Regions from separate parts of the Homo sapiens genome. Here region 1 is linked to region 2. Evidence: fine-mapped expression QTL. A gene starts in region 2. The other region holds a variant in brackets. All regions are shown on one strand. Distances are from middle to middle. Region 1 has its middle 22 kb from the start of UAP1-DT. Region 2 holds the start of UAP1 (UDP-N-acetylglucosamine pyrophosphorylase 1).

Region 1 (5,239 bases), 23 kb before region 2:
ATTGCTGCACATTCATCAAAGGCCTAAGCATCTGACTTTGCATTATAGCCAAGAAAGAGAATTTGGAGGTTGGGTCTGATGATAAATAACATATGCAGCTATGGCCCCTGAACTAGGCTGCCTGAAAGTGGTGTTGTGAGTCACTTTTATGGTTTTGGCAAACTGAAATTCTACCATTCAAAATGGCTTCCACCTACTTGTTCATGTGTCTGTTCATGTACATGACACAATTGTTTTCTTTGTTCCCAAAGAAACAGGCAAGGGAAATCAGCTAATTGGCTAACCCTTAAGCAGTAGGGAAGATATGGCAAGGGCTGGTTATGTTGCTACATTGGTTTGTATCACAAGTGGATATAGAGAGTCTGGGGTTAAGGAACAGAAGGTTCCATTTTAATGCCATATTTCGGCCAGGTGCGGTGGCTCACACCTGTAATGCCAGCACTTTGGGAGGCTGAGGCAGGTGGATCACGAGGTCAGCAGTTCAAGACCAACCTGGCCAACCTGGTGAAACCCCATCTCTACTAAAAATACAAAAATTAGCTGGGCGTGGTGGGTGCGCACCTGTAATCCCAGCTACTCGGGAGGCTGAGGCAGAAGAATCGCTTGAACCCAGGAGGCGGAGGTTGCAGTGAGCCGAGACTGTTACTGCACTCCAGCCTAGTGACAGAGCAAGACTCCGACTCCAAAAAAAAAAAAAACACCATATTTCTCCATTATCTTCATTGACAGAGCATCAGAACCAGTTGCCTGCTGACAAAGGCCAAGTTTAATTAGGGTAAAAGAGGTGAGATGCCAAATTTGTGTGTGTGAGAGAGAGAGAGAGAGAAAGAGAGAGAGAGAGAGAGAGAGAGGGAGAGAGAGAATTAGAGATTTCAGGACCAGGCAAAGGAGGCAGCTTGGAAATGAAAATAGAAAGGCAAGTTGGAGTGTTCCAGGGACTTATATGACTCTCCCTTGCACTCTCCAAGTTGGAGAGACTTCCTCACACAGTAACGATATGACCTTAGTAAGCTGCTTAAACTTTATAAGACTTGGTTTCCTCTTTTGTAACATAGAGATAATAATCATATTTACATTATAAAATTGCTGTGAAGACTAAATGAGCTTATTCACATGAAACACCTGTGAGGTGTCTTTCCCTCCCTTTTGTTCTCATCGTCATCCAAATTTCTCTTCTTATGTTGGGCTGCAAGTTGAGCATTTCAAAACATCTTCCCTTCAATGTTATGTCCATTTTTCTCATCATTTGGTGTTAGTGCCTAACTCATCCTGACCATTTTTGATGTAAGGAACCTCCCTCATAGCAGGATTTTTTTTTTTAGCATGCCCATACTTTTTGTTTCTAACAATTTTACATTTTGGAAAACTCATTTTTACTTGCAACTGTGGAAAAATATGTCATCTACAGTGGATCCAGAAACATAGTTATGAATGCTTTTTGCTTTTTTTCTATTATTACCATTATTATTTTTTTCATTAGGTGGTCAGGCACGGTGGCTTACATCTGTAATGCCTGCACTTTGGAGGCCGAGGTGGGTGGATCACTTGAGGTCAGGAGTTTGAGAGCAGTCTGGGCAACATGGTGAAACCCCATCTCTACTAAAAATACAAAAAATCAGCTGGGCTTGGTGGTGCACACTTGTAATCCCAGCTACTCGGGAAGCTGAGGCAGGAGAATTGTTTGAACCCAGGAGGCAGAGGTTGCAGGAAGCTGAGATCGTGCCACTGTACTCCAGCCTGGGTGACAGAGTGACACTTTGTCTCAAAAAAAAAAAAATTAGGTTATTAAGCTTGTCAAGGAATAATTAAATATAGACTATATTCTCTACCCTTTGATATTGTGGAGGAAAAATAATACTGCCACCATCAATATTTTTATTTCATATAAATATTATTATATATAATTTTTAACCTCCTTAATACAACTTTGCTTTCATATTTAAATGAAAATGGGGGGGTGGATTTTTGTCTGAGATTTTAACAATATCTTTTCCTTCCACAGATAACAAGATCTTAATTTCGCTTGTAGTTTATAGCTGTATGAATAGGTAAAAGGGGATTCTTACTCGGATGCAAAACTCAGTAAGTTGACTAATTAATTCATAAGGAATATTTTACTGTTAACATAGACGTGGGCTTATATGGGCCAATTGTTTCTTAATCTGTTTGTTTAATATGTCAGAAATAAGGTTTTGTGGCCGAATTCAAGCAGCCTATCCCCTGTGTCACCAGAATTTCAAGACTTAAATCTCTCTTTAATTATGCTTTTCACTACTGGCTTCAACAAAGCTGAATAATTTTGTGTATGTGCCTCACATACACATGCCCCATATAATAGGTAGACTACATTTCTTAGATAAAATACATACTTAACTCATTGCTCATGATATTTCTTTGAATTCCAGGAACATGACCAAAGACTAATTTTCTAGGTTGTACAGGAAAACAAAAACCACACATACAGGCTAATAATGACTGATCTCAGAGCATATGAATTGAATGACTCTGATTCTCAAACTTTCAGTTGCCTGAATTGAGAGGCCTTTTCTTATTCTTGCATCACTTCATATTAAGCCCTTCTGAAGTTCCTTCCTAACTTGAAGCAGCACCCTCTTTATGGAAAAATACAGTTCTCAATGAAGGTAAGTATGGCAACTATGATCTCTGTTAGAACAGCCCAACAAATGCTCAAAGCTCACGTACAGGAGAGGGCAGGTTTGCCTGACCACACTGGGTGAGCAGCAGAATTAAAAGCCAAGCCTGAACCAGGGGTGGTGACTCATGCCTGCAATCCCAGCACTTTGGGAGGCTGAGACAAGTGGATCCTTTGAGGTCAGGAGTTCAAGACCAGCCTGGGCAACATGAGGAAACTCTGTCTCTACTAAAAATACAAAAATTAGCTGGGCGTTGTGGCAGGTGCCTGTAATCCCAGCTACTCGGGAGGCTGAGGCAGGAGAATCGCTTGAACCCGGGAGGTGGAGGTTGCAGTGAACATAGATTTCGGCACTGATCTCCAGTCTGGGTGACAGAGCCCGATTCCATCTCAAAAAAAAAAAAAAAAAAAAAAAATGTCCAGCCTGAGCCTGCGGGATAACATACTTTTCTTTCTTGCCTACAGAATTTGTATTACATATGATTA[T/A]TATATTTTTCTCATACAAAGACATTGTTCATAATAAACTGTACCAAATTTTAAAGAGAAATATTCTACATGAGATCATTAAGATCCTGACTATAAACTGTGAATAAGAAACCAGAAAACACCAGTGGCAGTGGCTAACACCTGTAATCCCACCACTTTGGGGGGCCGAGGTGGGCGGATCACCTGAGGTTGAGAGTTCGAGACCAGCCTGACCAACATGGAGAAACCCCGTCTCTACTAAAAATACAAAATTAGCTGGGCATGGTGGTGCATGCTGGTAATCCCAGCTACTTGGGAGGCTGAGGCAGGAGAATCACTTGAACCGGGGAGGCAGAGGATGCAGTGAGCCGAGATTGCGCCATTGCACTCCAGCCTGGGCAACAAGAGTGAAACTCTGTCTCAAAAAAAAAAAAAAAAAAAAAAAGCAGAAAATCTTTGTCATTTTAAAATGGTTTCTGGGTGGTAGTCGCAAATTGCAAAAATACTACAGTTTTACAAGGTGCATTTTATAGCTCCAGAGAGAATTCATCTTTTGTTTGGGGAAGCAATTCAACAGGTCTTTGGGTGATGTAAAGACAGTACTCACAGACTAGTGTGTGGAAATAAGAAGGGGCCAAACCGCTCCGTATATTAAAGATTTTGTTCCTTGGGTACAGAGACAATCAAGTGATTACCTGATTTTCTGCTTGTGGGGAATCCAAAGACATGAAATTGGAATTACTTTATTTTTTTGAGATGGAGTCTTGCTCTGTCGTCCAGGCTGGAGTGCAGTGGCGCAATCTCGGCTCTCTGCAAGCTCCGCCTCTCGGGTTCACGCCATTCTCCTGCCTCAGCCTCGCGAGTAGCTGGGACTACAGGCGCCCGCCACCACGTCTGGCTAATTTTTTTTTTGTATTTTTAGTAGAGACGGGGTTTCACTGTGTTAGCCAGGATGGTCTCGATCTCCTGACCTCGTGATCCGCCCGCCTCGGCCTCCCAAAGTGCTGGGATTACAGGCGTGAGCCACCGCGCCCGGCCGTAATTGGAATTATTTTATCTGGATAATAAAATACAGTGATCTCAGGATGCCAAAAATAAAAACAAACATCAACCAACTTGGTAAAGTTGGGGTACGTATTGGATTCATTTGAGACAGTTTGTTGTTGTTGTTGTTGTTGTTTTTACTATAGGTATTTATTTAAAGGAAAACGTGCAGACTAAATACTTTTCTTTTCTTTTCTTTTTTTTTTTTTTTCTGAGACGGAGTCTCACTCTGTCACCCAGGCTGGAGTGCAGTGGTGCGATCTCGGCTCACTGCAACTTTCGCCTCCCAGGTTCAAGCGATTCTCCTACCTCAGTCTCCCGAGTAGCTGGGATTACAAGTGCCCGCCACCACGCCCAACTAATTTTTGTATTTTTTAAAGTAGAGATAGGGTTTCGCTATGTTGGCCAGGCTGATCTTGAACTCTTGACTTCAGGTGATCCACCCGCCTCGGCCTCCCAAAGTGCTGGGATTACAGGTGTGAGCCACTGCGCCCGGCCTAAATAATTATTAAATTGTGTTTTGGCGTTAACCAACATCTTCATAAAAATACTTTGAGGACAGCTGCATCCATAGATTTCAACTGCATGATTACTTCTTTGCCCATTCTTTTCTCTCTTTTCTCTCCCAAGTAACCGCTTTCAGATACGGTTCAAGGTAGAATTTATCCTGTCATATTTGGTCCACTGTTCTTTAGGCGAGATCTGCTGCCTCATAGTCAGGTCCAGCGCAATCGATGTGAAACATCCTGTTATTATAAAGGTTCACAGGAGGGCTTCTTATGGCTTCTCTTACTTCTTCATCCTTATATATGGTATCATCTGGCATTAACCCCAGTTTATGGAATCCTGCAGCATTATAATACACTTACCAAAAACCATCCAGCCACTGATGCTGCAACAGCCGGCCTGCCAGCCATTTTGACCCTGAGATAGTTTGGAACCCTGGTACAGGATCTACATGCACCTTAGACTGGTACTTCCCCAAGGATTGCGTCACGAGCAACTACCAAATGGATTTTCAGAGTCCAGACTGTTCAATTAATCTCATCCACACACTCCCCTCTTCCCTCAGTTCTC
Region 2 (5,500 bases):
CTCTCCTGCTGCCCTGTGAAGAGGTGCCTTCCACCAGGATAGTAAGTTGCCTGAGGCCTCTGCAGCCATGCAGAACTGTGAGTCAATTAAACCTCTTTTCTTTATAAATTACCCAGTCTTGGGTATCTCTTGATAGCAGTGTGAAAACGGACTAATACACTAACCAAAATTTTTCTGTGGTTTGTTAGTCTTATTGTTGACTCTCAAGGGCTTTCCAGGTATTCTCTCTTGTCATTTGCAAGTCGAAGTAGTTTTATGACTTTTTAAAATTCTTAAAAAATAATTTTTTAATTCTTATATATTTTTTCTAATTTATAAGCCTCTTAGGATTTCTGTTGTCTAACTTCATTAGCTGATACCTTTGGTGTAATGTCAAAAAATCATAGGTAGTGTGAACATCGTTGCCTTGTTTTCTTCAATCAGCTCTTAAAAGACCATGTATATAAAAAGTATTTCGAAGGACAGAAATAACTCTAGTGTTAGACATTTCTGGACATTTAGCTGGCAAGATGAGATTATGGCCCCTCTTATGCCTAGTAACCAGAATAACAAACAAATGAAACTTCAGCAAAAAAGGGTAAAAGTACAAATGTGATTTTATAGTAGTTCATTAAAAACATTGAGCTGGACCTCAGTTCTATCTTTTTTCTTTAAAGGATTGCTAACTAATAATTTTGCTCTTTACTCAGTCATTCATCTATGACTTATAGAATGCCTATAATATTCCAGACATTATCTTAGGTTCTTTCTCATTTTTTACTATACCCATGTGAAATAGGTATTAGCTTCATTTCATAAAAGGACATTGGAGTTTGGAGTGGTTAAATGACTTACCCAAAGTCACACAGTTAGTAAGCGTAGACTGATTTTGAATCTGGGTCTCCTAGTTTGAATTAATAAGTGCTCAATAATAAATAATAACTAAAGGTTATTTAGTGTTTACTGTTTTACATACTTCATTTATATCGATTGGTTTAATACAACCACCAAATGGCATTTTCATCTTTATTGTCTGTTTTTTATAGATGAGAAAACTGATAGCACAAGTAGCTTGCCAAAGATCACAAGCAATAAAGCTGAAATTGTCTTCAGATCCCATGATTAAGAAACCAATCACTACACTATAAACCAATCACTACACTATTCTTCTTTCAAAGAAACGAAGGAAGTTCTAGGATCATGAGAGATGGAGAGTATTCAATCTCCTGAATGTAAATCTACCAGCATTACTTACCAAGTTTAAGTTTTTCTGTTGTTACTTGAGGCAGTGGGTGATTATGCAATTGGTAAAGGGAATGAAAAGGCCTTTGCACCCAAGAAAGTAGAAGAAAGGCGCCTGAATCTCTTTATGATAGGTGGTATGTTAAATCTAGGTATTTTCGTATTTCAACATATTCCACTTCTTGCAAAAGCTGCAAAATGCAACACAACTTTAAATGTAAACATAGCTTCCAAGGGCACAGTGCTGAACATATAATAACCTGTGTGTGCACACCCACACTAGGTTATGTAACAGGACTGTAAACACTGGTCCTGGAATGGCCTGGGAGGTCATCTAGGTCCTCCACCATCTTTCTGCAGAGTACTGAGGCCTAGCGACGTTAAGTCTGCAAACTCACAAAGATGACCCCGGGCTTATACTACCTTAGGTTACCTACTACCTTTGCTTGCATTTCCTCTCTCCTTTCCTGTCTGTTTGTGCAAAAGAAAAAAGGCCTGGCTTCGCCTTCTTGGGAGCCAAAACACAACCAAACAGAGAGCGAGTTTGGAGCCCGGCCAGGCATCTTGTGAACTGCACACAAAATAACTAGCCCAAGGTCAGAGAGCGCGCCAGGCCCGCCCTGAAAGTTTCTCCGCAGGAAAATCCACCGCCCTTTCCCAACCACCCGCGTGGGTGGCTCGGAAATCCGCCACCCTGGGGACACAGCTCCCTGCCCATCTCTGTGGCCCGCTTGTGCCCCGTGCCGCTGGGCCGACTAAGAGCCTCGGGCTCGCACCTCCCAGTACAACCTAGGGACGTCAGGGGTCCTGGGACCCACGAGCCGCTCTCTGCCGGCCGGCTCCTGGCCCCTCCTAGCAGACCCAACCGACATCCTTCACCCTCAGTTAGTGCGCAGGAGGGACCGGGACGCCAGCCGACTGCGCTCCAGAACTATTCCCATTGGGCCAGAGAATGAGTGACGCACTAGGCCCCGCCCCGGCCCGGTGGGTTACTCCTTTCATGCCCGGCCCCCATCCCTAGCCCCGCCCCGGCGCCCCGGGCCGCGGCCGCCTCCGCGTCCGCGTCGTCGTCTGTGCTCCCGGCGCTGACGTGTCTGGGCGGTCGGCTTCCACTCCTTCAGGCGTCGGCAGCCACTAGTCGTGGCGAGAGGGGCGGGGTGGCCGGGGCTGGCGCTCCACTTGGCCCCCGCTCCCGGCCCGCCCCGCCGCCGCGGCCCCCCGGATGAGGGTATATATTCGGAGCGAGCGCGGGACGCCGATGAGTGGCCGCGCGGAAGGAGCTGGAGACGGTCGTAGCTGCGGTCGCGCCGAGAAAGGTGAGGGGCTCCCAGCCCAGCGAGGAGACGGCGGGGCTCGGGACCCGGGCGGGCGGAGGGCCTGGCCCCACCGCACACACGGCCACGCGCTCAGACGTGGACACGCGTCGCACGAACGTGCACAGCGCGGGCAGCCGAGCACACGCCGAGGAGCCTCCCGCTCGCCCGCAGACACACACCCCAGCCCGTGCGCCCCGCAGTCGCACCCCATCCTCCGCCACCCCGCGAGAGGGTGTGTGGGCTGGGCAGCCGGGTGGATGGCGGGGCCAGGGATGGAATGAGCGCGCCCCAGATGGACTGGGGGCGTTGTGGGAGGAGGTCTGGGCCAGTGTCTGAGTCCGAGGGGGTCGTGTAGGCGTGTGGGGTTGGGAGTGGGGCCTCTCCCGGGTGGGCAGTAGAGACCTCGAGGCTCTCAGGCTAGGGCCTTGTGGACAGTTATACCAAGTGTGGGGGCCTGTAGTGGGACAGGAGATCGTTGGCACTGTCAGGTGGAAGCGAGTTGGTGTGTCTTGAATATATGAGGAAAAGATTTGAGAGGTCTGACAAAGACAGGGGATACATTTGGAGGACAGGACAGTGGGACAAAACCTGTTTGCTTGCCACTTTTTTCTTTCTTTTTTTTGGTTTGGTTTGCCATGATACTGGTAGTGAGAGAGAATTGAAATTTCTGGGTTTCCCCTCTCTTGGCCAAGCAGAAGGATGGTATTGGAGGGCTGAGCACACGTATGCTGAACATATGGCTGCTTGAACTTTGGCCTGTCGCTGTGCTACACTTACTTCTACATGGTTTATGAAATCTGAAATCAGGTAATAGGATTATGATCATATGTGTGTGTCATTTGGTATTGCAAAAGTTTAAGGACTTTTAGGTGAAATTCACTGGGTGTGGATCCAAGAGTTCGCCGGAAACTCAAGGCAGTTGTCTATTCCTTCACGGTTAGTCAGTTGGCTCACTTAGCTGGAGCAAAGAAAGACTTCATAGGCTGTGCTGCCAAGCATTTATAGGATTCAGTTGGTGGTTATGTCTCAACTCTGATACTGTTTTTCAAAAGCTTTAAGAGGTTTACTTATTCATTTCGAGGGCATACGTATACCAGCAGAGATAGGGGCTGGGTGGGGGAAGCCAGAAAAGGAGGGAGAAATACTGGATTTCTTTAATACTGGTATTTAAATTCTAATAAAAATATATTTGATAATGGTAGATTATTACCAAATTTTTCATATATTTTGATGCAGATGGATTAGGCTGTGGGCATGTACCAAGTTTTGTCATAATTTCTCGAGCAGATTTTCAACTTTTTCAGATTTCGGTTGTCAAAATAAAAATCCATATCTTTTAACTCTTCTGTTAATTGCTGCTTACCATTACACGTGCCTCTAAACATCGTTAATGGGAAACATGCTACTATTTTTGTGGCATGAAGGTGCTTATATCTGCCTCAAATAAATATAATAGATGAATTGTGCTTGTCCAAAACTCAAGTATGGTCGTTACATTATGAACATTATACAACATGTAGATGAACACATGTTACCAGTGGTTTACGCCCAGATATCAAAGTTTAACCTATGAGGTACCCTTTTTTTTTTTATTTTTATTTTTTGAGACGGAGAGTCTCACTCTGTCGCCAGGCTGGAGTTCAGTGGCGTGATGTCGGCTTACTACAACCTCCGCCTCCCCGGTTCAGGCGATTCTCCTGCCTCAGCCTCCTGAGTAGCTGGGACTACAGGCGCGTGCCACCATGCCCAGCTAATTTTTGTATTTTTAGTGGAGATGGGGTTTCACCATGTTGGCCAGAATGGTCTCCATCTCTTGACCTCATGATCCGCCCGCCTCGGCCTCCCAAAGTACTGGAATTACAGGCGTGAGCCACCGCGCCCGGCCCTATGAGGTATCTTATTTGCATGGATTCATTTTCCCAAGTGTCTGAAGGTGGAGGAGTATCTAATGATCTTTTAGGAAAAGTTTGGTTTATATCTTAAAATGTTATAGTAATATGTTTGTGTATGCCTTTTATCAGACAGAGCACTCTTTACTCTTGACTATCTTGAAGGCATGTGAGAAAGGTTGGTTGTCTTATATTCATGAGGAAATCTATGCACAGGGAGGTAAAATGATTGCATAGAATCAAATGATAGAGAAGGACCAAGAACAGGGACTTCCTATTCTTTGGTTATCTGGTTCCTTGCTGATCTTCCTACTACAATGTACTCCCTTAAATCAGAGGCAAAGCAGCAGCATAAATAAGGTCTTGGGAAAGACTACATTCCTTGGAAAATAATTTAATATAAATCTGTTCCTCTCAAGTGTCTTTTTTAATGTGATTTTTTAAAATTAAAAAATAATAGCATCATGACTCTTGAAACCTATATAAATCAATAGGAATGCCTTTTAATACCATAATGAACATTGAAAGCTGAGTGTTGTTATTACCACCTCAGGGAACACACAGATGTAGGTTCTCTAGACCTGAGCTTGTAAATGGAGTTTGATGTTTAATGATCCTGGTGAGGTAGATACTATTATTAATCTCATTTTACAGATAAGGTAACCGAGGCATGGGGAAATTAAGTGGCTCAGCTTAGCCTAGAATTGTGCTCTGAACTACCATGTGTATTACTTTTCACTGTTCTTATAGGAAGAGAAGATAAGTGTCTTTAGAACCTACTTTTAACCTCTGTCTCTCACATCGAAGCAATTATAATGCAGTGATGATTCTTTACAGTGACCCTCAAATTTATTCCTTTCACTCTCATTTTCTCTGCCACTAATCTGGTTCAGACCTTTGGTATTTCATACCTGCAGTTGTCTTTTAACTTCTTTTCCTGCTTCTAGTTGTCCCTCCTTACAATCTATTGTATCCATTGCTCCTTTCTCTCATCTCTTTAAAGCATGGTAACACTGCCCTGTTTGAGAATCTACTGTTCGCTTTCTATTACTTATTCTCTGAAGTCTAAATTCT

The links. PIP is the estimated chance that this variant, and not a neighbour inherited with it, causes the effect.
Region 1: its variant is the best candidate, but not a certain one, in a credible set for the expression of UAP1 in T cells (TOPMed, PIP 0.71).

Annotation. Positions count from the first base shown.
Region 1 is chr1:162,536,581-162,541,819 of GRCh38, forward strand. It overlaps the pseudogene UQCRBP2. Among named protein-coding and RNA genes, the nearest start is that of UAP1-DT, 22 kb to the right of the region's middle. The variant T/A (reference allele first, on the strand shown) is at 3,140.
Region 2 is chr1:162,559,241-162,564,740 of GRCh38, forward strand. It overlaps UAP1 (UDP-N-acetylglucosamine pyrophosphorylase 1), which reads left to right and starts at 2,482. Exons shown (of 11, transcript NM_001324116.5): 1 at 2,482-2,537. It overlaps UAP1-DT (UAP1 divergent transcript), which reads right to left and starts at 2,113. Exons shown (of 3, transcript XR_426859.4): 1 at 1,998-2,113; 2 at 1,235-1,412. RefSeq lists a silencer at 2,071-2,970.